7 separate regions of the Homo sapiens genome follow, and all the other regions are reported to be linked to region 7. Evidence: microRNA targets listed by miRTarBase, many of them from high-throughput screens and not tested one by one. Region 7 holds a microRNA gene; each other region holds the end of a gene's coding sequence. Distances are between the middles of the regions.

The links. Region 7 holds the annotated microRNA hsa-miR-548f-3p (AAAAACUGUAAUUACUUUU, at 1,253-1,271, opposite strand). A microRNA usually pairs through its seed, bases 2 to 8, with sites in the 3' UTR of a target mRNA and lowers its output. Matches are read on the target gene's strand: a 7mer-m8 pairs with bases 2 to 8, a 7mer-A1 pairs with bases 2 to 7 and ends in A, and an 8mer does both.
Region 1: the mRNA of LARP1 is a reported target of hsa-miR-548f-3p. Seed matches in the 3' UTR shown: 7mer-A1 at 3,356-3,362.
Region 2: miRTarBase lists ILDR1 as a target of hsa-miR-548f-3p. Seed matches in the 3' UTR shown: 7mer-m8 at 3,736-3,742, 7mer-A1 at 3,337-3,343 and 7mer-m8 at 2,998-3,004.
Region 3: miRTarBase lists CERK as a target of hsa-miR-548f-3p. Seed matches in the 3' UTR shown: 7mer-A1 at 2,646-2,652 and 7mer-A1 at 2,714-2,720.
Region 4: miRTarBase lists RSF1 as a target of hsa-miR-548f-3p. Seed matches in the 3' UTR shown: 7mer-A1 at 1,668-1,674 and 7mer-m8 at 4,057-4,063.
Region 5: the mRNA of CD226 is a reported target of hsa-miR-548f-3p. Seed matches in the 3' UTR shown: 7mer-A1 at 3,541-3,547 and 7mer-m8 at 3,718-3,724.
Region 6: miRTarBase lists ZFP36L1 as a target of hsa-miR-548f-3p. Seed matches in the 3' UTR shown: 8mer at 2,391-2,398.

What each region holds. Positions count from the first base shown.
Region 1 is chr5:154,813,685-154,817,752 of GRCh38, reverse strand. LARP1 (La ribonucleoprotein 1, translational regulator) reads right to left here. Exons shown (of 19, transcript NM_033551.3): 19 at 148-3,866. The coding sequence ends at 3,657. Among named protein-coding and RNA genes, the nearest start is that of MIR378H, 14 kb to the left of the region's middle.
Region 2 is chr3:121,984,522-121,988,578 of GRCh38, forward strand. ILDR1 (immunoglobulin like domain containing receptor 1) reads right to left here. Exons shown (of 8, transcript NM_001199799.2): 8 at 2,802-3,887. The coding sequence ends at 3,846. LOC101927010 (a long non-coding RNA gene) reads left to right here and starts at 3,658. Exons shown (of 2, transcript XR_241555.5): 1 at 3,658-4,057.
Region 3 is chr22:46,683,308-46,687,375 of GRCh38, reverse strand. CERK (ceramide kinase) reads left to right here. Exons shown (of 13, transcript NM_022766.6): 13 at 170-2,966. The coding sequence ends at 242. Among named protein-coding and RNA genes, the nearest start is that of CERK, 53 kb to the left of the region's middle. RefSeq lists a silencer at 770-1,064 and an enhancer at 3,345-3,846.
Region 4 is chr11:77,663,408-77,667,475 of GRCh38, reverse strand. It overlaps RSF1 (remodeling and spacing factor 1), which reads left to right. Exons shown (of 16, transcript NM_016578.4): 16 at 1-4,068. The coding sequence ends at 559. Among named protein-coding and RNA genes, the nearest start is that of CLNS1A, 28 kb to the right of the region's middle.
Region 5 is chr18:69,861,054-69,865,121 of GRCh38, reverse strand. It overlaps CD226 (CD226 molecule), which reads left to right. Exons shown (of 6, transcript NM_001303618.2): 6 at 683-4,068. The coding sequence ends at 808. Among named protein-coding and RNA genes, the nearest start is that of CD226, 85 kb to the left of the region's middle. RefSeq lists an enhancer at 227-296.
Region 6 is chr14:68,785,810-68,789,877 of GRCh38, forward strand. It overlaps ZFP36L1 (ZFP36 ring finger protein like 1), which reads right to left. Exons shown (of 2, transcript NM_004926.4): 2 at 1,853-4,068. The coding sequence ends at 3,724. Among named protein-coding and RNA genes, the nearest start is that of ZFP36L1, 5.2 kb to the right of the region's middle. RefSeq lists silencers at 307-376, 397-446 and enhancers at 723-1,017, 1,307-1,486, 3,919-3,978, 3,989-4,068.
Region 7 is chr5:110,512,592-110,516,659 of GRCh38, forward strand. It overlaps MIR548F3 (microRNA 548f-3), which reads right to left and starts at 1,324; the gene lies at 1,238-1,324. The region is part of intron 12 of TMEM232 (transmembrane protein 232); the gene reads right to left.

The sequences.
Region 1 (4,068 bases), 44 Mb from region 7:
GCAGACTCCTCGAAGCCCAATGGCAGAACCCCTGCCGAGGTTTCATGTGCACATTGAGTGCAGGGTTCCTCCGGATCTGGGGGAACTCTACCAGAAACCCATCCTTCACACCCAATAGCAGTAACCTAGATGGAAGACCAGCCAGTATTTTGCCTTTTCAAGTGTTTATTTTTATACATTTTTTTGTATTAAAAAGAAAAGCATAATTACCACAAATTACAAAGGACTAAAGCAGGACTAGAATAATGAATGAATCACTTCAGCCTGGAAAGCAGATACTCTCAATAATATTAATGTTATAATACAAGCTCATTCAAGTATTTTACATTTTTTTGTCCTTTTAAATATGATATCCTAGCACATAGTAAAGATAATGTACTACGAGCGTAAGGTGGAACCTTCTCCGCAAAGCCAGATGACAAGTTTTCCTCTCCAGTGAGAAATGGGCTCCAAGTTCTTATCTTCTCTGCCATCAGCATGGCTGAAGGGGGAGAGGGTGGGTGTTAGGGAAAATCCAGGGACCCTTCCACACAGGAGGTACTCTGGGGTTCCATTCAGGAGGGTGCCAGATAATTCAGATCACTCTACCCAGGCTTTTTGGCAAAAAACAACCCTCACCCTCCGTAACTAGTCATCTTCCTTGTCCCTCCTCCTCACTTCCCTTCCAGGGCCTTCTAAGCAGCTTACTTTCTTTTGTAAAATCAATCACCAGGAAAGGGGAAAAAAAAAAAAAAAGAGCTACAATGGAACAAAACAAAAACATTTAACAACTTTGACACAGGGGCTCAGCACCTCTATCTGAGCCCCAGGGGTCCAGGCTGGGGCACGGCTGGATGGCCCTTCTCTACTGGTAGTGCCTTTGCTCCCAAGTGCAGGAAGAGGGCTAAAGAGAAACCTGCCCCTTAACAGGGCTGAGGCACACAGACCTGCTGATGTCTGATGCCCAGAGGTTATGTTGGCATGGACCAACCTTGGAAGGGATAGGATGAACAGAGGGATCTGGGCAGGCTGTTGCTTTATCTCAGGTCTTGGATCCCCATGGGACGATGGTAGGTGTGAAGTGGTTAGCCCTGATGGCCCCTGCCACTTCTGGCATGCTTGTCACAGATACATCGGTCCTAAATTCAAGTGTCTTCAGAAAGTGAAGATGTAAACTACTCTTTGCAACATTAACTCCTAACATGTTACCAAAAACAAAAACAAAAACAAAAACAAAAAAAAAGGAAAGAAAAGAAAAAGCTCCCCTACCAACCACCAGCCGATGTTGAGATGAAGTCCTCACCTCCCTGCCCCAAAGGGGCTTCCTTTCAGGGATGTCTGTGAAGAAGATGGCAGCCCCCTGGCCTGGGAGTAAACTCTAGGTAATAACAGCCTTTCCCCATACCCTAAGGCTTCCTTGTGCCCCAAACCAGCAGAGGAAAAACACTGAGGTTTCTGTGGTGCTGGATACAGTACAGGGCTGCGTGACCTGAAGGAAAGAAAGGAAAGGAGAAGGGGGTCCAGGAATCCAGTGTCCGGTACAATGTGGGGCAGGCACCAGACTGGGCAGGGAAAGGCCTCGGATACCACCATCATAGCAGAGACCAGACGCTCATCCTTGGTTTGAGACATGAAGTCACAGGAACTGAGATGGGCTTCCCACATACCAACCACTGGGAGGGCAAAGGTGGGGAAGGGCACAGGCTAAAAATTAACAAGGTGCCCAAGGTAAAGGGCAAGCCCTTGTCAGCCTGGGATACTGTCTCCTACTCCCAACCTTTGGGCCCAACAGAGGAACCAGTTGAAAAGGAGGGCCAAAGACATTGCAGTAAGTAAGCAACAGGACAATGAACTCCATGTTGCCCAGATCCCACTGAGAGTGAACGTGCAGTCATGCCCATAACCGACACACATCCCAGTCCATGTGGGTCAGTCCTTCATCACCCTCCCTGCCTTCTGACAACAGCAGACTCCAGCCATTCCATTATCATTCACAGCCCAACCCAAGCAGTCAGTGGCTGAAGAAAGAGAATCAGGTATACTCTATGTCCACATATACCTTCCTGCCACAGGGCTTCACCAACTGGCAGGATTCCCCCCAGCCCCCAACTCCTCCTCATCCCTTGTTCCCAGGCGGGTCAATTGGAGAGTGAGCAGAGATAGATGGCTTGCAGAAGGGTATGCAAGATGGGGAGACTCCACCAGACCTTAGGGAGAGAATGGCATCTTTCTCCACCTTTTAAGAGAGACAGAGCCTCCCTGAGGTCTCAAAGATTTTTCAGGGCAACACAAGAAACGTTTCCAAGCCTCAGCTGCAGGTGTTCACCTTTCCACTCTGGGGTGTGAGGAGATGGTAAGCTGAGGACAAGTGTGTTCCAGATGCAGGCCAACTCTGTTCTCCAACAGTTTGAACCAACTTGGCCTTGGGGTTCCAAGGGTAGGATGAAGGGTGTCACGGCAGGACGGGGCCTGGCGTGAGGCAACAGCAAGCAGAGCGAGGACACAACAGTGGCAGCAGTGTACAGACACAGGACGTCAGCTTCAAACGATGCAACAGCAGGGATATCTTGGGCACGGCTCTGATTCGAGCCACTCCCAACTCTCTTGCCTCCAGGATGGAGGCACTGTACATGCAACAGTCCAGAGAAAGATTCTAGCCAGTCCAAGCCCAGGCACATCCAGAGAAGGTGGGAGCTCTTCGGGTTGACTCCACCGAGGAAAACAGGCATTTGGGTATTTCAGATTCCCGCTCCACAATAAGGCAACTTTTAAAAAAATATTATTTCCAAAAACAAAACAAAAATTCCAAGGGGAGGGGAAAGACATTACTTTCTGTGGATTAGGTGGGGGTTTTCTGATTTTTTTTTTTTTTTTGGTCTTTTATGGTCGATTTTGTCTTTTTTCTTCTTTTTTCCCCATTTTTTCAAGGATGGAAAGGTCAGAGAAAAATAAAATAAAACATCTTTCAATAGTCTTTCCTGGTAAAAGCAGCGTCTCTCTGGGCTGGGGAGTAAAGGGTGTGGGGCAAGGGGAGTGGGGAGAGGCTGAAACCTTCCCCCAAACCCCAGTTTTAGATCCTTTGGTTTCCTTCTCCCAGAAGATGGCAGAAGGGCATGGTGGGAACAGCAGGGAGAAAATATGGTGATGACAAACCCCAGATGATCAAGGGGCTGATGCTCCTGGGGCCCAGAGGTACCACCAGAGCCTTCTATGAGACAGTGCTGGGCAATGGGGGGGCCCGCAGGGCCTTCTTGTGGGCTGCATAGTTGGCTTGAGGGGGAGCAGGAGGTTAGGGGTGGGGACCAGGGTTGCAGCCTACTAGCCTCGGGCAGGGCTGCAGAGTGATTTTGGTAATCCAGATGAACTATCAATAATTTAAAACTTGATATATATATATGTATATATATATAAAAATCTCCCCCCTTTCCCTCCCCCCTTAGAAGAAGCTAGGATGTCAAGAGTCATGGAGAGAGGAGGGGGAAGGGGATGTAGAGGCTCCTGCCCAGGGGTACCTCTGATAGCCCAAATGGTGTATACATTGCTACTCAGCACAAAGGCCTGTCCTAGTAACTCCAGGCCTGTCCCTTCATTGTCCCCTTTCCTGGGACTGGGCACCCCCATGGACTCTTACCCACCCTACCCCTTTCCCCCCTCAAGCCCCAGGGCTAAGGAGCTTTTCACTTTCCCAAAGTCTGTGTGTTCGAGTGCTGGCTTGTCCATTTGGCATCTTCCCGGACAGGCTGGCCGGTGGGTGGTGTAGGGGGTTGGCTGATCATGGCAGCAGGCCTGCTGGAAGACTGGGAGGGGCACCGCTTCCTGCCCTCACCGCCGCCACCTCCTGCTACCACTGAGTGTCGCTTGTGGTTGCCCTCCTCACCCATGGGGGGCTGCAACAGAGGAAGGAGTCACAGGTGATCAGAAGCACTATCTACGCCCTCTTCCTTGCCAGGCCCGTCTAGACACTTCCTACTTTCTACCTCCAAATATAGAAAATGAATGGGTTTAACCTTAAAAATAAATTATAAGTTATTAAGCGTTTCTTCATGCCAAGCCTTGTGCTGTTTTATGCACACTCTCTCATGGGGTCAG
Region 2 (4,057 bases), not on the chromosome of region 7:
TTTATCTTTCTTGCCTTTCTGCAGCTTATTTAAACATGTTTTAGATTCCATCTTGATTTATTTGTAATACTTCTGAGTTTGTCACTTTGTATAGTTTTCATAGTGGTTGCTCTGGGTGTTACACATGCTACTTATAACAATGTACTGGTATCAATATTCACCACTTCAAATGAAGTGTGGAAACCTCACTTCCATTCAGGTCTCTTTGGCTTCCCCACCTTTAAATATCATTGTTTTAAGTATCAGATGGTGTTACAATTTTTGTTTCAAACATAAAATATATTCTCTAAAACCCATAAGGAAAAAATTGTCTATTGTATGAACCAGTATTTCTGCTCTATTGTTTCTTCTTCCTTCCTGATGTTCTAAGTTTCCTTCTTTTATAATTTGAAGAACTTCCTTTAGCTAGTCTTTTATGGGTAGATTGGCTAGTCACAAAATCTTTTAGTTTTCATTCATCTGTTAATGTTTTTATAATCCCTTCATTTCTAAGAATGTTTTGTTTGTTTTCAAAAGATAATTTTGCTAGATCTAGAATTATAGGAGATGATTCTTTTCTTTCATCCCTTAAAAAATATTTGGCCACTTCCTTATTTATGGTTTCAGATAAGAAATCCATTCAAATTGGTGTTCCCCTACAAGTAATGCACTGTTTCTCACTTGCTGCTTCCAGGACTTTGTTTTTAGTTTTCAAAAAATTATAATGTGCCTGGGCATGGATTTTTTTTTTCTTCTGTGGGATTCATCCGGCTTCTTGAATCTCTAAGTTAGTGTCTTCTATCTAATTTGGAATGTTTTCAGCCTTATTTTTTCAAATATTCATGTCTACCCTTTTTCTCCTTTACTTTCTGTTACTCCGATAATATGAATGCTGGATATTTTGTTATTGTTCCATAGGTCCCTGAGGTCTGTTTATTTTTTCCGGTTTATTTTCTCTCTATTGTTCAGATTGGGTAAATTCTATTGTTCTGTCCTCAAGTTCACAGATTTTTATCCCCCATCATCTCTACTGTACCATTAAGCCTATCCAGTGAGTTTTCAGTTTTTGTATTTTTCAGTTCTATAATTTTCATGTTTCCTTTTGATAAAACTTCTATTTCTATTTTTCTGAGGTTTTTCTGTTTTTTCATGTTTCAAGAGAATTTGTAATTGATTGTTGTAGCATTTTTATGATGTCTGCTTTAAAATTCTTATCAGATAATTTCCAATATCTGGTTCATCTCAATGCTGGAATCCATTGATTTCCTTTTTCACTCAAGTTGTGATTTTATTGTTTCTTGATTTGCACTCTGAACATTTTGCCTATTATGTTAGGAGACTGATTTCTATTTAAATATTTTGTTTTGCAAGGAATCACTCTGTTTAGGTTTAGCATACAGTTTTAGCCTACTTTTGTGGGCTGTAATTCTAATGGCAGCTTAATTTTCAGAGCCCTTGCAGTGTTATTTTAGTTGCTTGGTTTATGTAGGGCTCCCACTGGTCTCTGTTACTGCTGCCTGAAAGGGCAGGAGGAATTTCCCTGGCTGGGTTGCCAAGTGTCTCTTGGTGAGGGTGGGCTATGATAAATCCTGCAGATGCCTCTAGCTGCCCAGATTTCTCTGGGCCTGGGAGGAGAGTCTTGCTTCCACATCGTGGCTTCTGTGACCAGGTTGCTGGCTTCAGAGATGTCGTCTGTGACAGGTCCCTTTTCCTGGTTCTACCAGCCAATCCTAGTATCTCTGGGCAGGAGAGGACAGTCTTAGGCCTGTGCAAAAAGGCTTCCCCAACTGGACCACCTATTTTTCCTAGGTTTCTCTTACTAGCTCCTCCTGTCCACCTCAGTATCTTTTCTTGGAAAAGAGGAGTTTCTGACCCAGCAGGGAATAAGGGTGCTTCCCCTGGTCACTTATTTTTTTTGTAGGCCTCTCAATCAGTCCACTTATTTTTTTGTAGGACTCTCAATCAGTCCCCTTGCCTGAGGTTGCCAGAGGGACTCCATTAGGTTCAGGGGGAAGAATGAGCTACTGGGCTACCTTCTGCTGCTAGATGGAAAGTCAGGAAATACCTTCTGATAGGGGGATATAAAATGCCCTGCCTCTGTGCTGTTCTTCTGGTCCTGGGTTTTCAAACCAACCTGCTTTCTTCTTAACACCCTTTAGAATCCTTTGGTTTTCTCTTGTACCATTTCCAAAATTTATTAAGTTGTGCTTAGCAGGGCATAGCAGGGGAAATGGGACAATGCCATCTTGTCCAGACCAGAAGTCTCTCACCTACTGAATGTTACGTCTACATTATCTGTAAATATATATATATTTTCGCTAATTTAGATCCAATTAAATATGAATAATCAAAAAATCCCAGAGAAGTCTACCTAATGCAGAAATTTAACCTATTTTCTCCACATGTAATTAAATTAATGAGACTGGGGGAAAATGGATGTGTCAATAAATGGGATCTAAAGTGAGCACGTAAGGATATACTGTTAAAGAACATACACACATACTCTCCTTCACTCAGGCCACCTCCTTCCAATCTGCTCAGTGTGGATCTCTCCGTCAAGCACAGATGGATTCATGAAGCCTCCAAAGGGGCTTCGAAAAATGGGAGGGGGTGGTAGAGCCTATTATAGTGAAAATACAGTCCTTTCTTCCTGGGGCCCTCTGAGTGGCAAGACCTGCCTGGATGCTTCTGCTTGGGAAATCTCAACTCTGAAAGGCTGAGTAGTGCCAGGAGAATGGTAGCTCCAGAACTCCCTAGGTTGGTCGGGGTCTTCTCTGAACTTTAGTGGTGAAGGTGGCTTAATCCAATCAAATGCACCAAAGTAGGAAAGCAGATATTTATTTGGAGCAGCATGCTCAGCTTGGCATGTTTTCTTTCTTCCTTATTTATATACTGTGTCATTCCCAAGAAGGATTTAAAGTGACTTCAATCAATACACAATATATATGAAAATATAAATTAGATATACAGGTAAAAAAAGAGCAAGAGGAAAACAAGGCACAGGAATAAGGCTGGTGCAAAACTGCTTCTCTGTGATTTTCTACACTTACAATAAATAGTCCATTTATGGGCTGGCAGGATAAACTCCTAACAAGAAAGGACCCTCAAGACATGCCATGGAGGAAGATACATTCCCATGGGAATGTCCCTATAATACTCCATAGATTTCCTTTTCCTGAAACATGTTTGATTTCTTCTTAAACATTCCCAAGTTCTCATTTTGAGAATGGCCAGGGTTCTGGGCAGTGTAGTCTACTGAAAGACTCAGGCTACTAAGTTCCTGAGGGATCACATTCCAGTCAGGGTCCATTACAAGTCAGAGATTATATAAATATGCAAGAGAGCATGAACCAAGGCTAAAACTACAGTTGGTAATTCCTCGAACTCTAACTTTTTTGTTTTTTGGCCTTTTGGGTTTTTTAGTAATGGGGACTTGCTCTATTGCCCAGGCTGGAATACAGATGTGTGATCATGGGATCCTGGCTCATTGCAGCCTTGCACTCCTGGGCTCAAGGGATCCTTCTGCCTCAGCCTCTTGAGTAGCTGGGACTACAAGTGCATGCCACCACACCTAACTAATTTTTATATTTTTTGTAGAGACGGGGTCTCACTATGTTTCCCAGGCTGATCTTGAACTCCTAGTCTCAAGTGATTCTTAGCCTCCCAAAGTGCTGTGATTACAGGTGTGAGCCACTATACCCAATCTCAAACTCTTGTATTTAAAATTCTTCTATTTGATTCTCAGAATCTAAGCCAAAAACTGTTAGACTCAGACTTGCAGTTCCCAAGTCAGCTGGAAACCTAGGTGATGCTGATGACACACAGGAGCCGAGAAGTAGCCACAGAAGTTGTGCTGTGCTTGGTGACTAAATGACCACACTCCTTCCACTATGAGAGCTGTCTTTCTCCTGGGAAATAGAAGAATACACACACAAAAAAAATCCAGTCAGTGCAATCCGTCTATGCATGTAACACATAATGTGCTCTTGATTTACAAATCCTAAGTGGGTGGTGGCTGCCAGGACAGCAGATCTGAACCTAAAAAGTATTTCTTTACTCTTCATGAAACCAATCTCTC
Region 3 (4,068 bases), not on the chromosome of region 7:
TCCATGGGGGATGGACCCCCACTTCAGCCCCTGTCCAAGAGCGGTGCTCAGGGCCAGCTTTGAGTGAGGGACACGTGGGGTTTACTGCAGCCCCTGTCCAGGAGTGGGGCTCAGGCCAGCTTTGAGTGAGGGACACGTGGGGTTTACACGTGGCCGCTTGTCTCTGCAGAGTCCACTGCCAGCTGGTTCGACTCTTTGCACGAGGAATTGAAGAGAATCCGAAGCCAGACTCACACAGCTGAGAAGCCGGCGTCCTGCTCACAAACTGGGAAAGTGTGAAAACTATTTAAGATAATTATTACAGACCAATTATGTTGATATATACATTTAAATGTAGAAATTTATTTTTGATAGTTAAATCTTGATTTTAGAAGAAAACCCTTTTGTCAACAATTTTGTGTACATATTTGGCATTTTCAGTTCTGTACGCATCTGCGGGTTGCAGCCCACGCCGCTTACTCTCAGCGGATGCAGCTGCTCACTTGGGGGCACTGGCCTCTTAGGTTTTAACGATGTCAACAGTGTAGTTTAGAAAATGGCCCGTTAGTGGCTCTATTGCAATAATGTTAGGGACATTATATGATTTCCACGCAGGTCACACCATCTGGGCCTGAGGTAGCAGTGGGTCACTTTGATCCACTTTGCAGGACTTATTCTGTAACGGTTTGTGGCCAAGTTTTGGGAAGTGGTTGATTCTCTTTGCCTTCATTTCACCTTCCTCTTCGTTTACGGTTAGGACATCGCTGCTTGATCCTTACAATACTGTGCAACTGCAATGCAACGTGGCCCTGCTTCAGGTGATCCGCGGGAGGGGCCTCCACGCCAGCGCCGGGAAGGCTGCTGGGGCCTCCACACCTGCCTCATCACGGCGGCGAGGCTACGACAATCCGGCTGGGAGCATGACCTTGGCGTCTGTTCTGGGAGCACGGATGATAAGCTCTGGAAGCTGGCAGTGTGTAAAGCACTGGCAAGTTTGTTACTGTTAAAATGTCAAATACCAATGCTTTATATCGACGCGAAGTGCTTAACACAGCCGGGCTTGGGGGCAGTCAGGAGGAAGCTGGCCATCCGTGGAGGAGGGGCCGGTCCTGGACTCCCGCAGGACTCCTCTGAGGCAGGGCCTGAAGTCTGTACACGTGGTCCAGATTTGTCCTTGTCTTTTCTTCACACTGAGTTCTCTATATTTATTGAACATCTTGTCCTTTTAAGCCAGAGTAGTGTAAACTGCGTCTCGGATGTCTGTCTTTTGCCTCGAAGCCACGATGGATCGCTGGTTTCCTCTGCAGCGCGAGGGCTCCGGCGACCAGAGGATTCTTCCCGGAAGGCATTCCTGCCGCGCTCCCCGGGGCACCCCTCAATTGTGTACTACGTCCTTGTTTAGTGTGTATCCGTGCCCACGTAGATGATGTCTGTAACGTAGTTTTGTTTGAAATATGAGAATATGCGGCTTAAACTTTGATCTGTAAGGAGCGGGGCCGTGGCCGTTTGGAGCACGCTGTAGACACCGTTCCTCATGCTGCCGGGTGGGTTTTGCAGAAGCTCCCTTAGTGATTTCATGTTTAACAGGCAGCATCCATTTTCAGAATTTCCTGGCATTGATTTATATTTTGAAGCATACAGGAAACTTCTCGTTTCCTCGTTTAGCCCCACCCAGATCAGGTGAAAGGGCAGCTTTAATGGTGGTTTTTATGGACCACATTATCAGAGAGCACTGTGCAAGCCAAATGGTTCAATAATGAATGAAAATTCTGGGTGTAAAGAGTAAATATGCCCTGGCTCTTTCTACCAATGTTTGCTCCTGGTTGGAAAGAAACCAAAGATTTAAGACGGGCTGCTCTTCCAGACTGGCTGTGCCTGCCTGTGCCCAGCAACCTGTGCAGCCGGCAGTGTGCCTGGTGTCACGCCAGGAGGCTGTGGCTGCTGTGGGCCCTCTGGAATTGTGCTCCTCACAAAGTTTCCCCAAAAGGTTCTTCTAAGCCTTTATTGTCCCTGGTAAATGTTTCCCGGCTGGGCGCGGTGGCTCACGCCTGTAATCCCAGCACTTTGGGAGGCCGAGGCGGGTGGATCACCTAAGGTCAGGAGTTTGAGATCAGCCTGCCCAACATGGTGAAACCTCGTCTCTACTAAAAATACACAACTTAGCCAGTCTTGTTGGCGCACGCCTGTAATCTCAGCTACTAGGGATGCTGAGGCAGGAGAATCGCTTGAACCCAAGAAAGAGGTGGAGGTTGCGGTGAGCCAAGATTGCGCCACTGCACTCCAGCCTGGGCAAACAGAGGGAGACTCCATCGCCCCCCCCAACAAAAAAAAAAGTTTCCCATACACTGGCCTGCCCCAAAACCCACTAACAATTTTAGCAAAACAGTCCAGGCCAAAGAGGAAGCATTTCATGTTCAATAAGAAACCCAGCCATTCCGCATGGCTGGTTCCTGAGTGGCTCTGGTGATACTCTCCAGCCACCTGCTGACATTCAGAATCTCAGACCTCGGGACTGCTGTTGCGGTACCGTGTGTCTGACACCTGCCAGCAGCCCTTTGCTATCTGCGCGCAGGATGGGGGTGACTGCCCAGACATTCCCGCTAGATAGGCTCTGATTTCCGGGGCAGCCTTTCAGATGCGGCAGACATACAACACCTGTACTTTAGAGTTTTAAGGGAAAAAAAATCAGAAGTGCTGGTTAGATAGTAAAAACTTAGGATAACTTAGAAAGGCTAGTTTTAGCTTCCTTTGTGGCTCCCTGGTGCAAAACAATTAGCAGTTATGCAATGGACCTGATTCTAGTTTATTCTAATTAAGAAGTGAGGCCGAGTTTGACTTCGTTCCTGAATACAATCTTGAGTAACTGGGAAAGTCTGAGTGAAAGGATGGCCTCATTCTCTTTCTAATCTTGCTGGTTTCAAGATTAGAAAATGGCATTATTTGATCTGAAATGTTTGAGAAGACACGAATAAAGTTACTTGGGCAGACTTGGCTTGCTTTCTTTCCTTTACACATACCTGTTATTTTCAAAGCAGAATATTTTTCATGAAAACACACACAATTTAAAGAACAAGAATAAAATGAAGCAAGGTGTCACCACCACCTATGCCAGGCAACTGAACGCCGCCCCGAAGCCTTCTGTGCCCTGCTCTGGAGTCCCCCCGCTCCCCCTGGGAGGGCGCTACGAGGTCACGCCAAGCGCATCCCTTCCTGCCTCTGTCCATGGCTGTATCTGCAACAGCGAGTTTAGTTTTGCAGGTTTTGCTCCTTATCCAAAGGAAACGTGTTGTTTTCTGTAACTTGCTTCTTTCACTCCACATGTCTATTTTTATTTATTTATTTATTTTGAGACGGAGTTTCGCTCTGTCACCCAGGCTGGAGTGCAGTGGCGCAATCTCGGCTCACTACAATCTTGGCTCACTGCAAGCTCGCCTCCTGGGTTCACGCCATTCTCCTGCCTCAGCCTCCGGAGTAGCTGGTACTACAGGTGCCCGCCACCACGCCCAGCTAATTTTTTGTATATTTAGTAGAGACGGGGTTTCACTGTGTTAGCCAGGATGGTCTCGAGCTCCTGGCCTCGTGATCCACCAGCCTCGACCTCCCAAAGTGCTGGGATTACAGGCGTGAGCCACTGCGCCCGGCCCACTCCACATGTTTGAGAGGGCATTTGCATTTGTATTTGAGGAACTTCGAAAGGACATTTGCATTGTGAAACTGACTTTTCTGGTCCATGAAAGATCCTCATTCATGTCTTTTAATTATTTTATAATTTTTTCCATGAAAGTCTTTAAATTTTTAGATTTATTCCTAAAACTTGACTTTTGTTTGTTTTTAACCTTGTTTTAAACAAGGTCTTATTCAGTTGCTCAGGCTGGGGTACAGTGGCGTGATCACGGCTCACTGTAACTTCAATCTCTCAGACTGAAGCAATCCCACCTCAGCCTCCTGAGTAACTGGGACTACAGGCGTGCAACACCATGCCTGGCTATTTTGTTAAAATTTTTTGTAGAGACAGGGGTCTCACTCTGTTACCCAGGCTGGTCTCGAACTCCCGGGCTCAAGCAATCCTCCTGCCTCAGCCTTCCAAAC
Region 4 (4,068 bases), not on the chromosome of region 7:
GAACTCTGAAGATGATGAGCTAGCTAAAGAATCAAAGCGGTCAGTTCGAAAGCGGGGCCGAAGCACAGACGAGTATTCAGAAGCAGATGAGGAGGAGGAGGAAGAGGAAGGCAAACCATCCCGCAAACGGCTACACCGGATTGAGACGGATGAGGAGGAGAGTTGTGACAATGCTCATGGAGATGCAAATCAGCCTGCCCGTGACAGCCAGCCTAGGGTCCTGCCCTCAGAACAAGAGAGCACCAAGAAGCCCTACCGGATAGAAAGTGATGAGGAAGAGGACTTTGAAAATGTAGGCAAAGTGGGGAGCCCATTGGACTATAGCTTAGTGGACTTACCTTCAACCAATGGACAGAGCCCTGGCAAAGCCATTGAGAACTTGATTGGCAAGCCTACTGAGAAGTCTCAGACCCCCAAGGACAACAGCACAGCCAGTGCAAGCCTAGCCTCCAATGGGACAAGTGGTGGGCAGGAGGCAGGAGCACCAGAAGAGGAGGAAGATGAGCTTTTGAGAGTGACTGACCTTGTTGATTATGTCTGTAACAGTGAACAGTTATAAGACTTTTTTTCCATTTTTGTGCTAATTTATTCCACGGTAGCTCTCACACCAGCGGGCCAGTTATTAAAAGCTGTTTAATTTTTCCTAGAAAACTCCACTACAGAATGACTTTTAGAAGAAAAATTTCAACAAATCCTGAAGTCTTTCTGTGAAGTGACCAGTTCTGAACTTTGAAGATAAATAATTGCTGTAAATTCCTTTTGATTTTCTTTTTCCAGGTTCATGGTCCTTGGTAATTTCATTCATGGAAAAAAATCTTATTATAATAACAACAAAGATTTGTATATTTTTGACTTTATATTTCCTGAGCTCTCCTGACTTTGTGAAAAAGGGTGGATGAAAATGCATTCCGAATCTGTGAGGGCCCAAAACAGAATTTAGGGGTGGGTGAAAGCACTTGTGCTTTAGCTTTTTCATATTAAATATATATTATATTTAAACATTCATGGCATAGATGATGATTTACAGACAATTTAAAAGTTCAAGTCTGTACTGTTACAGTTTGAGAATTGTAGATAACATCATACATAAGTCATTTAGTAACAGCCTTTGTGAAATGAACTTGTTTACTATTGGAGATAACCACACTTAATAAAGAAGAGACAGTGAAAGTACCATCATAATTAACCTAAATTTTTGTTATAGCAGAGTTTCTTGTTTAAAAAAAAATAAAATCATCTGAAAAGCATTTGTACAGTAAAATGTATAATGAAGCTTTGCCAACCAGACTGTGCTAGCAACAAATTTTTTTAAATAAGCTTTATGCAGTGGTAATAAGGTGGCCTCAAATATATTGTGTCTGATGGAGAGTTATTAGTGAAATGAATGTGGTCTTTCTTAAGGCCTGGGTGGACTGTAAACTTTGCCAATAGTATAACTCTTGTCTTCTGGCCACTTGATGTTTAAATATCTGAAATATCATTTTGAAAAAAATACATCTATATATAACATACATGAAGAGATGCTAAGCTGACAGTGATATTTTAGCACATTTGAAGACTGGGAAGAGATTTTCAGGTGAATTTTAACTGGTCTATTCTTGCCCTTAGTATCTACTTCAAATTGAAGTCTACAAACAAAGCAGTTCCTTTGGGAGGTTTTTAGTTTGAGTTTTAGCGTGTGTGTGTGTTTGTGTGTGTGCGTGTGCGTGTGTGTGTGTGTTGGAATTTCCTATCTGCCTGGATATATTAGCAGAGTTTGAATGTAGTTTTGGCCTTTGGCCATTAGACTTCTATTAAAATTCATTAATAGTCATACAACCAACATAGAGTTGAATGAGAACTGCCGATGTAATTAATAGGCATGACATCCATTTCAAACATCTCAACACTTTAAAGAAAAGCCCTTTGTTTCAAGAAAAAAGGGTTTGTAACTAACTAAATACCTAACATGTAATTGACACTAAAATATGAACTTTGTCTTATTTAGTTTCTGTTATAGCTGTAAAATTTCAGGCAGAGCCATAACATTGTACAGAGTGTAGCACTTGTGATTAAACCTAGCCTGTTAAATCCTGAAACCTTCAACCATTACTTCTGTGAATACTTTAGCCCTGGGATTTGGGTTTTTCTGTTCCGGTGTTGTGTCTGTTGCCGGCAATGGACACACCATATCTGCTGCTGGCCCAAGGAACGTCATTAATTTTTCTTTCCAAATTAAGTATTATGTGCTAGTCAGTGTATAGTAAAGCACTTCTCTTTTTTATTACTAAAAAGCTGGCATTAGATTTGCATTATAAATACCTCTCTAGGAACTTTATACTCCTTTTCCTTCTTCAACAGGTATTGCCCTTAAATCTTATCTTTTGGCCTTGAAAGTTTATAGCTATTGTTTTTCAGTTGTTCGTTGTTTTGTTTTGTTTCACTTTAGTTCTGTAGTACCTGCCCATTAATATTTTTGCTTTGATTCTAGCAATGTGTATGTATCTGTATAAAAAATAAAATAATGAAAGCAACCTAAAAATAGGATGCACCAATAGCATGTGGTTCCAAGTAAGTTGTGATTTTTATTTTGAGACAGTGTTCCACTGGAAGGGAGGGAAGGGCTTACATTCACAGACAGTAAAGCAGGGCTGTGTAAGGAGCTACATTTACTTAACAGTCTCCTTTCCAGCTAGGTTTGTTTTATTTATTTGCAAGTCAGCTAAGAATTAACCTTTTAAACCATCTAAAACAGGCAAGCAATATAAAGATTTCTACTAGTGCAAGGTAAGTGGTTTGAATATACAAGTGCCCTTTCCTGCCACCCAGTCTCACTACCGTTTTAGTCCTGCAGCTGGGTAAAGCCACTATTGTGTGGAAACTCTCCCATGTGCCCTGTCTCTACCTCTGGACACACCAGCTCCTTCTTCCACCTATTCTATTCCTCAGTTAAGCCAAGTGATCAGAAGTAGTATTAAATGGGTAGATAATTTTAACAGGATGCCTAATGTGAAATAAGGAGTTATTTTTACTCTTCTACTATAGAAAGCCTAAGGTAATTCTTACCATCTCAAAGACTGAGTATTCCATTTAGGTTTGGAGACCACTTGTGCTGTGCTGCCTGATATTTACCAAACTTGAATAAGTGTTCGTCAACTTGATAGTGAATGTACCCCTTCTCACCTTATATTTTGATTAAATCAATTAACTATAGGTCATCTACCAAGAATGTAATCCAAGCGGTTGATAAAACATTATTAGGCAGATAGATTATTGATTATTAAATTTTGAGCAGTGCAAAAACGGTTTTGCTGCTTGGAGTTCAGATTCAGTCCCTCAAAGAGTTTATGATCACTGAAATACACTCTGAAGGTATTCTGAAGAAGTTAAAAAATTTTAGAAAACGAAATGTTCTGTATACAAAGACAATACAGTCACTACGAACTGCAGAAAGTATAGGAAAGCAGTAATTGATGTAGAGTTTAGACAGTCTTGGATCTTTTTTAGAGCACTAACCATGGATTTAGACTCAAAATAGCTGCTACATAATAGAGCCCTTTAATAATTTAAACCCCCCTTGTTGAAATACAAGTTGGACTCCCAGTGTCAAACTCTAGACTGTAGCTAATGTATTAAAGGGAGATGTAGATTAATATTCAGTATATTTAGTTTGCAATTTCTGAAAAGGTTTGAAAACTAGTCAGCTTTTCACACAGCAGAAGCTTTGAACTGAAATATGTGTGAAAAGGACGCAGACTGAAAACGTTTTGGTTTTGTACATCAGTGCTGATGAAATTAGTGTAAAACATTTTCCATCATTGGCACATTACTGCAAAATGATGGCAGAGATATTTTCAAGAATGTACATCAAGTTATATTTCCTTGACATCCTTTTTTCAATTGGTCAAGGTTACAGATTCAGAGGATAAAGGGTAGTTTCATTTAGAATAAATTCATGTCTACTGGCAATCTATATATAAAAGTGACCTGCCCAAGAACCAAAAACTTTAAATGCTAATGAAGCTTTTGAAAAATAATTTTTAAACAAATTAATTTTAAAAGGGTGTTACACGTACCCAGTTTTTACTT
Region 5 (4,068 bases), not on the chromosome of region 7:
GCTACTCGTGAGGCTGAGGCAGAATTGCTTGAACCTGGGAGGTGGGGGTTGCAGTGAGCCTAGATTGCGCCACTGCACTCCAGCTTGGGCAACAGAGCGAGACTCTGACTCAAAAAAACCAACAACACTAAGGTCAATCTAAATTTTTAAATTACTCATCAAAAGACCTTTCTCTAGTTTCTTTTGTCTCTTAATTTGTCTTTCTTTTTTCACACCTGCATATTTTCTGTTACATACATACATATGTGGTCAAAGTGACTTGATTACGGTAGAGAAGATTAATGATTATACAATATCATCTTGATGTCAGTTTTGTTAACTTTTTATATGTTAAGTTGCTTATTTTTTAAAGTTCAGACACTGTGTTAGAATTTCCATATAAAAATGATAGTAATTGTTCTTATCAAAATAGCTTAACATTGGGAGAGGGAGTTCTACATTGAAACAGGTAATTCATAGCACAATACAGCAAGTATTAATCTAGACTAGATTTCTGTTGCATCTCAGTCAAGAATATGATTTCCAACAGAAGTTCAATACAATGAGAATGTTTTATCAAATTAATTATAATGGAAACTTGTCCCATATCATGCCTGCATTTATGAGAGGTATGTTTTGAATGTCTTCATTAGTTGTTGAAATGCAGTGAATTATTGACACTCTCTGCTGTTTGTCTTTCTAGGCACCCAATAACTATAGAAGTCCCATCTCTACCAGTCAACCTACCAATCAATCCATGGATGATACAAGAGAGGATATTTATGTCAACTATCCAACCTTCTCTCGCAGACCAAAGACTAGAGTTTAAGCTTATTCTTGACATGAGTGCATTAGTAATGACTCTTATGTACTCATGCATGGATCTTTATGCAATTTTTTTCCACTACCCAAGGTCTACCTTAGATACTAGTTGTCTGAATTGAGTTACTTTGATAGGAAAAATACTTCATTACCTAAAATCATTTTTCATAGAACTGTTTCAGAAAACCTGACTCTAACTGGTTTATATACAAAAGAAAACTTACTGTATCATATAACAGAATGATCCAGGGGAGATTAAGCTTTGGGCAAGGGCTATTTACCAGGGCTTAAATGTTGTGTCTAGAATTAAGTATGGGCATAAACTGGCTTCTGAATCCCTTTCCAGAGTGTTGGATCCATTTCCCTGGTCTTGGCCTCACTCTCATGCAGGCTTTCCTCTTGTGTTGGCAAGATGGCTGCCAACTCTTGGCAATTCATACATCCTTGTTTCTGTCTGGTAGAGAGTTTGCTTCTCAAATGGAGCAAACAAATTTGATTATTTTTTCATTGTTAAATAGGCAACATGACCAGAAAGGATGGAATGGCTTAAGTAAACTAAGGGTTCACTTCTAGAGCTGAGAAGCAGGGTCAAAGCACAATACTGGGCAATTCAGAGCATGGTTAGAAGAGGAAAGGGGAGTCTCAAAGCTGGAGAGTTTACCAACAAATATTGACTGCAGTGATTAACCAAGACATTTTTGTTAACTAAAAAGTGAAATATGGGATGGATTCTAGAAATGGGGTATCTCTGTCCATACTTCTAGAATCCACTCTATCAGCATAGTCCAGAAGAATACCTGGCAGTAGAAGAAATGAATATTCAAGAGGAAGATAAATGCGAGAGGGCAATCCTTTACTATTCTCATATTTATTTATCTCTCATTCTGTATAGAATTCTTGCCGCCATCCCAGGTCTAGCCTTAGGAGCAAATGTAGTAGATAGTCGAATAATAAATAACTTAATGTTTTGGACATATTTTGTCTACTTTTGAGAATTATTTTTAATATGTAAATTCTCTCAAAAGGGTCAGGCACCTAGTTATTATTTTTTAATGATTATGTGAAAGTTGAATATAATATACCACTAAAAGTGACAGTTGAAAGTGGTGGCATAGGACGGTAGGGTAGAAATTTGGGAGGGAAAAAAGAAATTGGGAGGGTACAGGCAACAGGAGAAAGGAATCAAACCACAGAAAAATACAAAGGGAAACTTCTGCTTCACTATTCAGACAAAGACAGCCCTAATGACATCACCAACAGTCAAAGCAATTAGAGACCATACCTAATATTGTTTAAATTCTAGATGTAGGCTAACAATGAAAAGTATTTGCCAAACTGAATAAAACTGTCATGGTTACCTTGAAAGGACAATGGTTATTGTTAAATATAGTGATCATTCATGTCTAAAAGATTCATTATTTATCTCTAAAGATTTCTAAAGACCACCATCTAGAAAAGATTCATTATGAAGGCTGTATTTAAATATCAAAGTTGTGGACTTCATGATAATCTTAAATAAAGCAAATCCAAATTCTCCTGTTGCCTAGACAGATTCTAAGATGTAATTTACACTTTTAAGCTAATTAGTGAGTATTTTATGATTTTAGCCTTAAACACCATGTATGCCAAATAATGCACTTGTTTTGTGAATTACAGAAATGGTAAGTGCCCACATTTCTGTGAATTATAAAATTTGTGAGTTTCTTTTAACCCTTTTCAGGAGTGAAAAAATAAAAACGACCATTTCCTGGTTGTGCTTAAGTATATGCAAGAAGGGTAAACTCTCATTTTTATTATGTTTGCTTAAAGATCTTTTTATACCTGGATTCATGAAATGTTTCCACAAATATATTAGTGTAACAAACTTGAAAGGCAGTTTACAAGAAAGCACTCTACTATCAGATCAATCAAAGATTCTGTGAGTGAATTTATTGGTTTGCATGGTGAAGCAAGCTTAGCATCAATTAAAAGGTAAATAATTTCTTTTCTGAATGGTAAAGACAATCAAAATATTACTTTCTGGAAAACTCCAATAACCAAATTCTCAATGATTAGTGTATGTGAGCAGGAAAACATTTTTACAGTTGTAGTATGGGGAAATATAAATCCAATTTTAAGAGAGAAAATTATGACTGGGTGTGGAAGGGACAGTATAGTCAGATACCATTGTCATGGTGGTTTTTACTGGGAACTTCATGAAAGACTTTTGTAGCAAACCACTGCAGTATTGCAAAGCCTCCAGAACATTTGGAACTTGTCTCTTTTTCCTTGTGTGTGTTTGTGTTTTTGGTCTCTCATTCAAAATATTGATGAGAACTATTTACTCTGTCCTTTCTTCTCTATATATTCTTCCTCTACAGAGTGTAGGGTTTTTTCAGGAATTTGGAGCCATCTGAAGTCCTCCCAAAAATTCTCTGACGTCTTCTGATGCTCCTGTTATACCCTCAGGGGTAATGCTTGTGAAATTCCATTCATTCATTTTCTTTCTCTGGACATCTTTACTTACCAAAGCACTTTCATTGTCATCTTTTTAACATCATTCTTAATTCGTGATAGTTTTGGGACTCTCCCTAGTGTATGTTTCTCCCCCTCTACTCTTTTGCACCTATGATTCTGATTGTTACTAAGAAAGCAGATGAAAAACAGATCCACAGAATAAACGATCAGAATTCCAGTAAATTCTATTTTAAATACAGATACTTTTTACAAGTTGCTGCTTTGGAAGCAAAATGCTTCTTAAGTTTTACATATATATATATATATATACATATATATATACACATATAATTTATATCGATGGATAATACATTAAGAATCTATGCTTCCTTTGAATGCCATTAATATTTATGTTAAAGTAACCAATGAAAGGAAATTACTTTGTTATAATAAGATAGGAAGACTTGTTAATGGAGTACACAGTTTTGTCAGGGAAAGAACACATCTTATTGAACTATGATGACTATGCATTGACTATATTATTATAAGAGATACCTTCAAACTTTATTTAAAGAACTTTAGGTATAATATGTTGAGAAAATAAAATAGAAATTTCATTTACTTGTAATCATGCTTAAAATGGGAGGCAGGTAGGTGAAGATATAATTTTTAGTAAAAACTCCAATTTATGTTTTAAGTAATTCAGTGTATTACTAAAATACTATATATATAAACTTAAAATACATGGGTTATCAATTTAAAAGACAAAGTAAGTAAAAATACTTTTAGTAGGCATTCGTGGATTGTGAACATCCAAGTTATATTGGTTTG
Region 6 (4,068 bases), not on the chromosome of region 7:
CTGAGGCCCCTTCTTCTAACATCCTGGAGAAATAATGGGCCTGAAATATTCTGCTGTTCCCTTTCCCAAGGGCCATCTCCTCTAACTTTAAGGACTCAATGGGACACAACCAGGCTCTTGTGGCCACCACACATGGGCCTGGGTTACCTAAATCCCAGCCTGAGTGAGTTCCCCAGGGAGACACTTAGGTAGAGGTAAAGGGTTAAGACCCGGGGACATGGAGCTTCCCCACATGATAAGGAGTCTCCCCTGGGCTTTACAGCCAACCCCCACCCTCCAGGGCCTCCAGTAGTCAATGTCTCTATCTTGGTTAGACAAAGTCAAAGGACTGACTCAGTCAAAGGACTGTCTCCTCTAGAGGAAATTCAGGGCTGGCCAGGAGGTACGCCTGGGCCTCTAGGAACCTAACCAGCGTCACCATGAGAGGGGAAGTTAGAAAGGTGTCTGCCACATGCTCAGGTATGCCTGCAGGGAATGAGCTCAAGGTGAATGATTAAATGTCTTTTTTGCTTTTACTCCGAAAGGAAGATCACATGCCACCACCAACCACCACCACCACCACCTCCACACACACACAAAGTTCATTTCCTCCTTAAGGGACAAGAGGCCTAGGTTTACTCCAGTCCTAAGAAGGGCTGCTTTTCCCCTTCCTAAACCACCAGCCCCTGCCCTGGAACAGGTAATAGTCCCTATTTTTCTACCTCACCCCCTGACCCCCAGTAGATATCTGATGACCAGGGAAATGAGTTGAGAGTAGAGGTAGGTCTTCGAGTCTCAGGGACATCCCTGGCCTGCCCAATGTCTGCTGCAGACCTTCGGAAGAGGCCTGGTGGAATCATGGTGACTCAGCTGAACTCCCAAAACTTCCTGGGTGTAAAGGAACCAAAGGCAAGTGAGCTGCAAATAGCAATCTCTGCCTCTCCCCAAATAAATCCTCCCAAGGCTCACACTCAAGATTTGTGAAAGTTCCAACTCCTCCGGCGGGTGAAATGCCACCTCTTAAGTGGTCATCTAGCCTTGGTGGGGGTGCATCTAGCCAAGGAGACCCCACCTTTCCCAAGATGACGACATACCTAATTTTGCATAGCACCTGAGATTGTAACTAAGGTGGTGGGAACCCTTGGTGACTTGCTGTGTTGTGTTGGCCAGTGTTAACACTCACTTCCCCTTAACAGCCCTCCAAACCCAAAAGGCTATGTCAAATCCAGTCCCAGTTCCCAGTTCCTTGTGACTGAGCCCCTCACCCCGCTGGACATTCCTCTCCAAGCAGGCAGTGCTTCCTTATACCCTCCCCACACGGGTAGGTGTTGAGAGGCCAGTACTGAGGTAAATTTCTTTCTTATGGGCAAAATGAGCCCAAGGCACCCCAATAAAAGAACTCACTCAAATCCAAGCCTGCAAGTGTGCCAAGTGCTAGGTCCTCTTTTATCATTTTGGCACCCCAAACACCATCCAAAGGAATGAAGAGCACAGGCTGGACGGGGCGGACTGGAAGGCCCTGAGCCTTGGCTCCCCAGAAGAACCGCAGAGGCCACACAAGTGTCGGCAAGGCTGGGCCCGCTGCTATTCAGCCAACAACTAACACACTGCACAGTCTTTTCAGAAGTAATACAGCAGGAAGTACAGGCTCCTTTGCAGAAAACCTCCACCCCGTCCCCTCTAAGCGCAGCAAACTGCCAGCATCAAGGAAGGGAGCTATAGGCTTAGCTTATAGGGATGAGAGATGCCGCCACCCACAGCCACAGCCCTCTCTCTCCGCCTCCCCCTACCCAGGACTTGCAAGGTATACAAGGGGAGAACCTTACTGGCAAAGTCAAACCAAAACCAAGTAAAACCAGCTCCACCATCAATGTTTCTTGAAAAAACGGGGTTTATTGATTTTTAAACTGCAAATAGTCGTTACAAAAAGTTTTTTTTTCTTTTAAATAAATTCACACAAAGAAAGAGAAATAGAAAGCGACGGTAGTGACCAGCAAGAGGAATAATAATTACATTCATCTTAATGTGTGTGTGCCAGTTCTGTTTACATTAACATTGGAAAACTCCAGACCTGGAATCCAGAACCTCAAATCTGTGAGTGGAATGTCTTGAGATGGGCACGTGGAAGTCAAAGGGTTTCTCTTTTTTTTTTTTTCCCCTTTTAGAAGCTATACATAAAAAGTTGTTTTCCTTCTGTACTGTCACAGAACTTTTACATACATTCTCAGTCCTAGTTGTGAAAGGCCTAAAGAGAAAGAAACTCAATTTGCAGTCCAACACAAAGGGGGGAATTTCTAAAATAAATAATCCAACAGTTTTTTGCATTTTTTTAAATTAATTTTTCATTTTTTTAAAATAAAATAACCAAAAAAGTGTAAAGTTACAAAAAATGTCGTTGAAGAATAATATATTAAAACTGTGGAAAAAAAGGAAAAAGACACGTCACAAAATTTTAAGATTAATATGAAGATCATAATTTAACATAAAAGAATATATTCTATGGATTTGTCATCCCGATAAATATGAACAAAATTAACAAAAAAAAGCATAGTTTGGCAATAAATACGTTTTGATAAGTTAAATAAGCTTTTTTATATTGATGTGCAGTGACAAGCAAAATTTTTGCTCTCCAATTTCTGAAAGTTATATGAAGTTTAAAACCCAGGGAAGAAAGCATGGCGTGAGTGCTCTAAGGATAGACCTACGGTATTCTAGAGCAAAAACCATTAAAGCTACTTCTACAGGAAATCGTTTTACACAGATATTGTATGTGGAATGAATACCATTAACTGCTCACCCCTTACTTTTTTTTTTTTAGCTTTTCTCTCATTTTTTTTTTGTTGTTATTTTTTTTAAAAAGATGTCACATATGAACTGGGGAACTTTAGCACCAAAATCAAGTCTCTCCTAGTCCATCTAGCTTCCCCTTCCTCCCCACTTAAAAAAAAGAAAAAATTAAATCACAAAGTCCCACTTAAGTCAAAATCTTCGTCCGCTTTTTCAGCCTTCCTTCCTGCAGACCTACACAAACCCAGGCAAGATTAGTCAACAGGGGTTCAGATCGGGAAGAAAAAGGTTTTGAATGTCAAGACAGGTTTCCCCCAAAACCCTGGTCTGGCAACAACTCTTCCAAGGGGCAGGGGTGGGGGGGGTGGGGGGGCGGGTACAGGTGGAGAGGTGCCACCGGGAAGAGGGGAGGAGGAATAAGTGTGCGGGAGACTGAAATGAGGGAAGGTGCAGTTGTGTCGCCAGTGGAGGGGGCTGCTGGTTCCGGGTCTCCACCCCGCCATGGGCAGAGGCTCCGGGAGGCCCACGGGTGCCCTCTGGCGCTGAAGAGGTAATGTAGTCACAGTGACAAAGTTAGATTACAAGGCACTAAGTTGCTTCTGTAAACTGTTACTGCTTTTTCTCTTGTGATTTGGCACTTAAGGCTTAAGCCGGAAAAAAAAAGGCATCTACTGACAAAATATGGGACTTGTCTGTTATGCATGGTAAGTGGGCTATAAAATCCAGGGAGGGGGTTTCAAGCCAGAAGAAGCTACTGACAAATTGACTTGTCCTTATGTTAGGTGGGGTTATGAGGGGGAGAGGGAGGGCACATTCTGAGGTGCTGGGGGAAAGGGGTTGAGCTTAACCTTGTTAATGTAGGGCCTGTGGGGAATGGGATGGGTAGGGAGAAGAGGGTATGGGATGTGGGTGCAGGGTAGGGGCTGGAGTAGGCAGGAGGTCCCTCCCTACCCTGGCTTAGTCATCTGAGATGGAAAGTCTGCTGAAGATGGGCAGGCGTCTTGAGTTGTCCAAGGTCGGGGAGTCTGAGCCACTGTGGCTGCTGCTGGAGCTGCTCAGGTAGCCCTCCTGGTCCGAGAGAGAATCCTGAGGGCTGGGGGGAGAGTCAAACATGTGAGGGGACTCGGACATGGGCCGGAAGAGGAAGGTGGTCGGGGAGCCACCCCCGGGCAGCCCCATGCTAGGGGCAAAGAGGCTTGCCAGCTCCTGGCTGGAGAAGGCAAAAGGGTTATTGGTGCCATCGGGCAGGGTAGGTGAGCCCAGGAGGTCATCGGCGCTCAGAATAGGGGGTGGGGTGATGGA
Region 7 (4,068 bases):
GACAGGCGGACAGAAATCTGAAAACATCTGCCCTGGATACGAACGCTTCAGGAAGTTTACATTCTAATTAAGCAGTTAATGCATGTTTATTAACTACTGTAAAAATATTTCATCATAAGCTCAACAATCCCCCTTTCTTTGAAAGAGCAAAGAGCACACAAAAAACAAAACACAAAACAAAAACATGTAGATCTTGTTTTTGTTTTCTGTTGTATTATTTTTATCTTCCCAAAGTGCTGTCATTTTAATTCTAACTGATCTGTATTTGAAATATAGAATACTTTTAAATCTCACCAAGATCATTTTAATACCTGTGTTATTTTTAAGATTCTTTATCACATCATGTTACTATGAATGGAGAAGTCCTAGGGTTGATGATTGTATTAAAGAAAGACACTCGTCATATAAGCATAAAGCTATGGCAGTGAAAGTGGAAGCTAAAGCTATTGCCCCATTGATGACACCCATAATTCCTGCTCAGACCAAGGTTCTGTTTCACCAATGGAAAGACAGGAAAGGAGGGAAGATGTAACAGATAGATAGATAGAAATTGATTTATCTCCAAGGCAAGTTTGCAGATAAACTGAGTTATATATTACAAACCGATGTACGAAGCATAGTTCTGGCATTAAGAGTTGGATTCAACCTCTAAGCTTCCAATAGCACTTCAATGTCAACAAAAGCAAAAATGAACAAGTGGAATTAAACTAAAAACAAAACTTCTGCAAAGTCAAGGAAACAATCAACAGAGTGAAGAGATAAGCTATGGAATGGCAGAAAATAACTGGAAACCATATATTCAGTAAGTGGTTAATATTTAAAATATGTAAGAAACTCATACAACTTAATATCAAATAAAACCAAACAAGAACAAAACACAAGAACACCAAAAAAGGGGAAAAAACCCAAGTAACCCAAGTAAAAAGTCAACAAAGGAACTGAATAGACATTTTTCCAAGGAAATCACACAAATGGCCAACAGACAAGTATACGAAAATGTTCACAACATCACTAATCATCAGGGAAATGCAAATCAAAACTACAGGTATTAACTCATACTTGTCAAGATGCATATTAAAAAAGACAAAATACAAAAGATAAGTGTTGATGGGGATATGGAGAAAAGGGAATGCTTATACATTATTGGTGAAAATGTAACTTGGTATGTCTACTATGAAAAATAGTATGGAAGTTCCTCAATAAATTAGAAATAGAACTACCATATGATACGGCAATTGTATTAGGTTGGTGCAAAAGTAATTACAGTTTTTGCAATTACTTAAAAAAACTGCAAAAATTGCAATTAGGTTTGCACCAACCTAATATTTTGAGTACATATTCAGAAGAAATAAAATCAGTATGCCAAAAATATCTGCACTCCCAATCTCTGGGCATTTTAACACTTTAAGTAACTGATCTAAGCCAATGATCCAACCCATTTATTTAAACTCAATTATTTCACAAAGGCTCAATAAATAGAAGCCCATCTCTGAAGAACCATTCAATGTTCTTTATTTCTGTGCAGCTAACAACTGTGACCAGCAATGCTGACAATCAACATTTTCTTTCATACTATGTCTTATCACCATACCCCCGAAATACATGTCTGGCATAGTCAAAACCAGAAATGAATTGCTTTTTAATTAAATAACTAGAAGCAGGAAGGGAAACATAAAATAACCAAAAAGGAAATCATCATGAACCCGTATGTTCTCTTGAAAAGTTGCCAGCAGCAATTCATAGCTTAAAAAAAAGCACAAAAATGTAAACCTTCCACTTATTATTTATCACAATCTTACTAAGAATTAAATATTATATTCTAAAGAAAATAAATATTTTAGAACATCTAGTAAATTATGGAACAAAAGGATAAGGAACTGACATGTCCAGGCTCTTTATCTACCTTCTTTTTCTATATCCTCAGGACAAAGCTTAGAGCAATGTATAGCTTTTTAATTTTTAAAGATCAGAAGCCTAAGGCTCAGAGAAGTTAAGTAACTTACTTTAAATCAATCAGAAAAAAAACCTATAAAATAAGCATATTTCACATAGTCTGAAGGAGGCACAGACTTTTTACATTTTTTTTCCTTCATGAAACAGAACAAGACAGATTGGTTTAAGACATTTTACTTAGGCATCCTAGGGGCACGGTCAAGCCCAGACAATATTAAGTTAAGAGGCCAAGTCTATTTTGGGGGCCCTCTTCTATTTAAACTCTCTCTATATGTACTTACTAGACTTACTAGAAAGTGACTCTTCTTTGATATAAATTTCCTAAAATTAAGTAGAGAGGTTCAAGGCCTAGAAAAAATAAGTTCACTAATGAAAATCAAGTTCTAAAAATCATACGGCAGAAATTGAAAAAGAATTGTTTGAACATATTTTTAAACAATTGCTCAAGGCTTAGGTATCAGATAAAGTTCATATGAGGGAGAAGAAAACAGCACAGTGAACACAAGAGTCAGAATGCCTTTGTTTAAATTCAAATTTCTGAACTTATGGTTGCAAATCCTTGGACTAATTAACCTCATCAAAACTCAATATCCATGTCTATAAATGAAGGAAATAATCATAACTCCATCTAAGGGTAGTACTTCACATAGTGCCTTGCTTATAAAATGCACTCATGTGGTGTGGCAAACAAAATTGATCATCTTGGATTGTCTGGCAAAATGCTACCTAGAACTGAGGGTCTTAAGAATCTCCCACTTTGTGGAGTTTCTTCTCCTAAACCCAACTTCCCAATGATTCAATGCTTTCTTTACAACCATTAAGAGCACCTCTTAAGGCCTCCAGGTTCTGGGCAGCTGGCATTTCCATCATCCCGTCCCTTAGATGATACCTAACTGATTCATGATGGTTTGATAACTGAGCCAAAAACATTTCTCCACTGAAAAGGAGTTTACACTCTTATAAGAAGGTAGAGTAGCAGTCAGGCACTATCCCTTTGAAATACAAACCCAATGAATGTCCAAATGCTTCCCCAAACTCCAGCACCCCTAATCAATGGGATAATTCAAAATGTAAACCATGTACTTCTTTCTGCTAACGGTTGACTTCTAAGCCTCTCCAGTAAAGCCTATTCTTAACCTATTTCATGGGGCATTATAGCACTTACCTTTCCCATCTTTGCACCATTCAGTAAATGTTAGCTACTCCTGCTTCTACTACTACGGCACCAGCTCCTTTTATAAAGGAAGCTGCAGAGGAGGAGCACTAGCCTTGGGTATGCCCTTCCTGTAAAGTCAGCTGTGTAAAATCTTCTGCCTAAATGACAACAAATGTTCTCAGTTCATTCTTACTAGCACTACCTGGGCTTTCTTCCAGGTGCTAGTTTGATGAATATTCTTTAACATAAAAATTTGAGGCCGGGCACGGTGGCTCACGCCTGTAATCCCAGCACTTTGGGAGGCCAGGGCGGGCGGATCACGAGGTCAGGAGGTCGAGACCATCCTGGCTAACACGGTGAAACCCAGTCCCTACTAAAAACACAAAAAATTACCCGGGCGTGGTGGCAGGCACCTGTAGTCCCAGCTACTCAGGAGGCTGACGCAGGAGAACGGCGTGAACCTGGGAGGCGGAGCTTGCAGTGAGCCGAGATCGCGCCACTGCACTTCAGCCTGGGCAACAGAGGAAGACTCTGTCCCCCGCAGCCCAAAAAAAAAATTTTTTTTGAACAAACTAAGCATGAATAAAGTTTTGTTAATGTTCTCCTAGTCTTTATACATATGCAAATAATTAGTTGTTTATAAGATTTTAGAGATTCGAGGCATAAGCTTAGAAAATACACTTATGAGAAACCTCAGAAGTAACAAAGTATAGATGTGGGAATTGGGTTTTTAAAATTTGATCTTCATAGTTCTAAATTCTCAGCCTTAAGGTAAACTTGAGATCGTTTTACTGACAAATAGAGAAAAGAGAAATACTATGCTTTGAAGTAGAACTATTACATACCTATTTTTTTGGTCTACAACTTTTATGATAAAGAACCATAATGATTTTTTCATATTTTTAAAAAAATGCTGAGGGGCAAAAAGAGCATGCATCCAACAACATGTTCCACCAGCT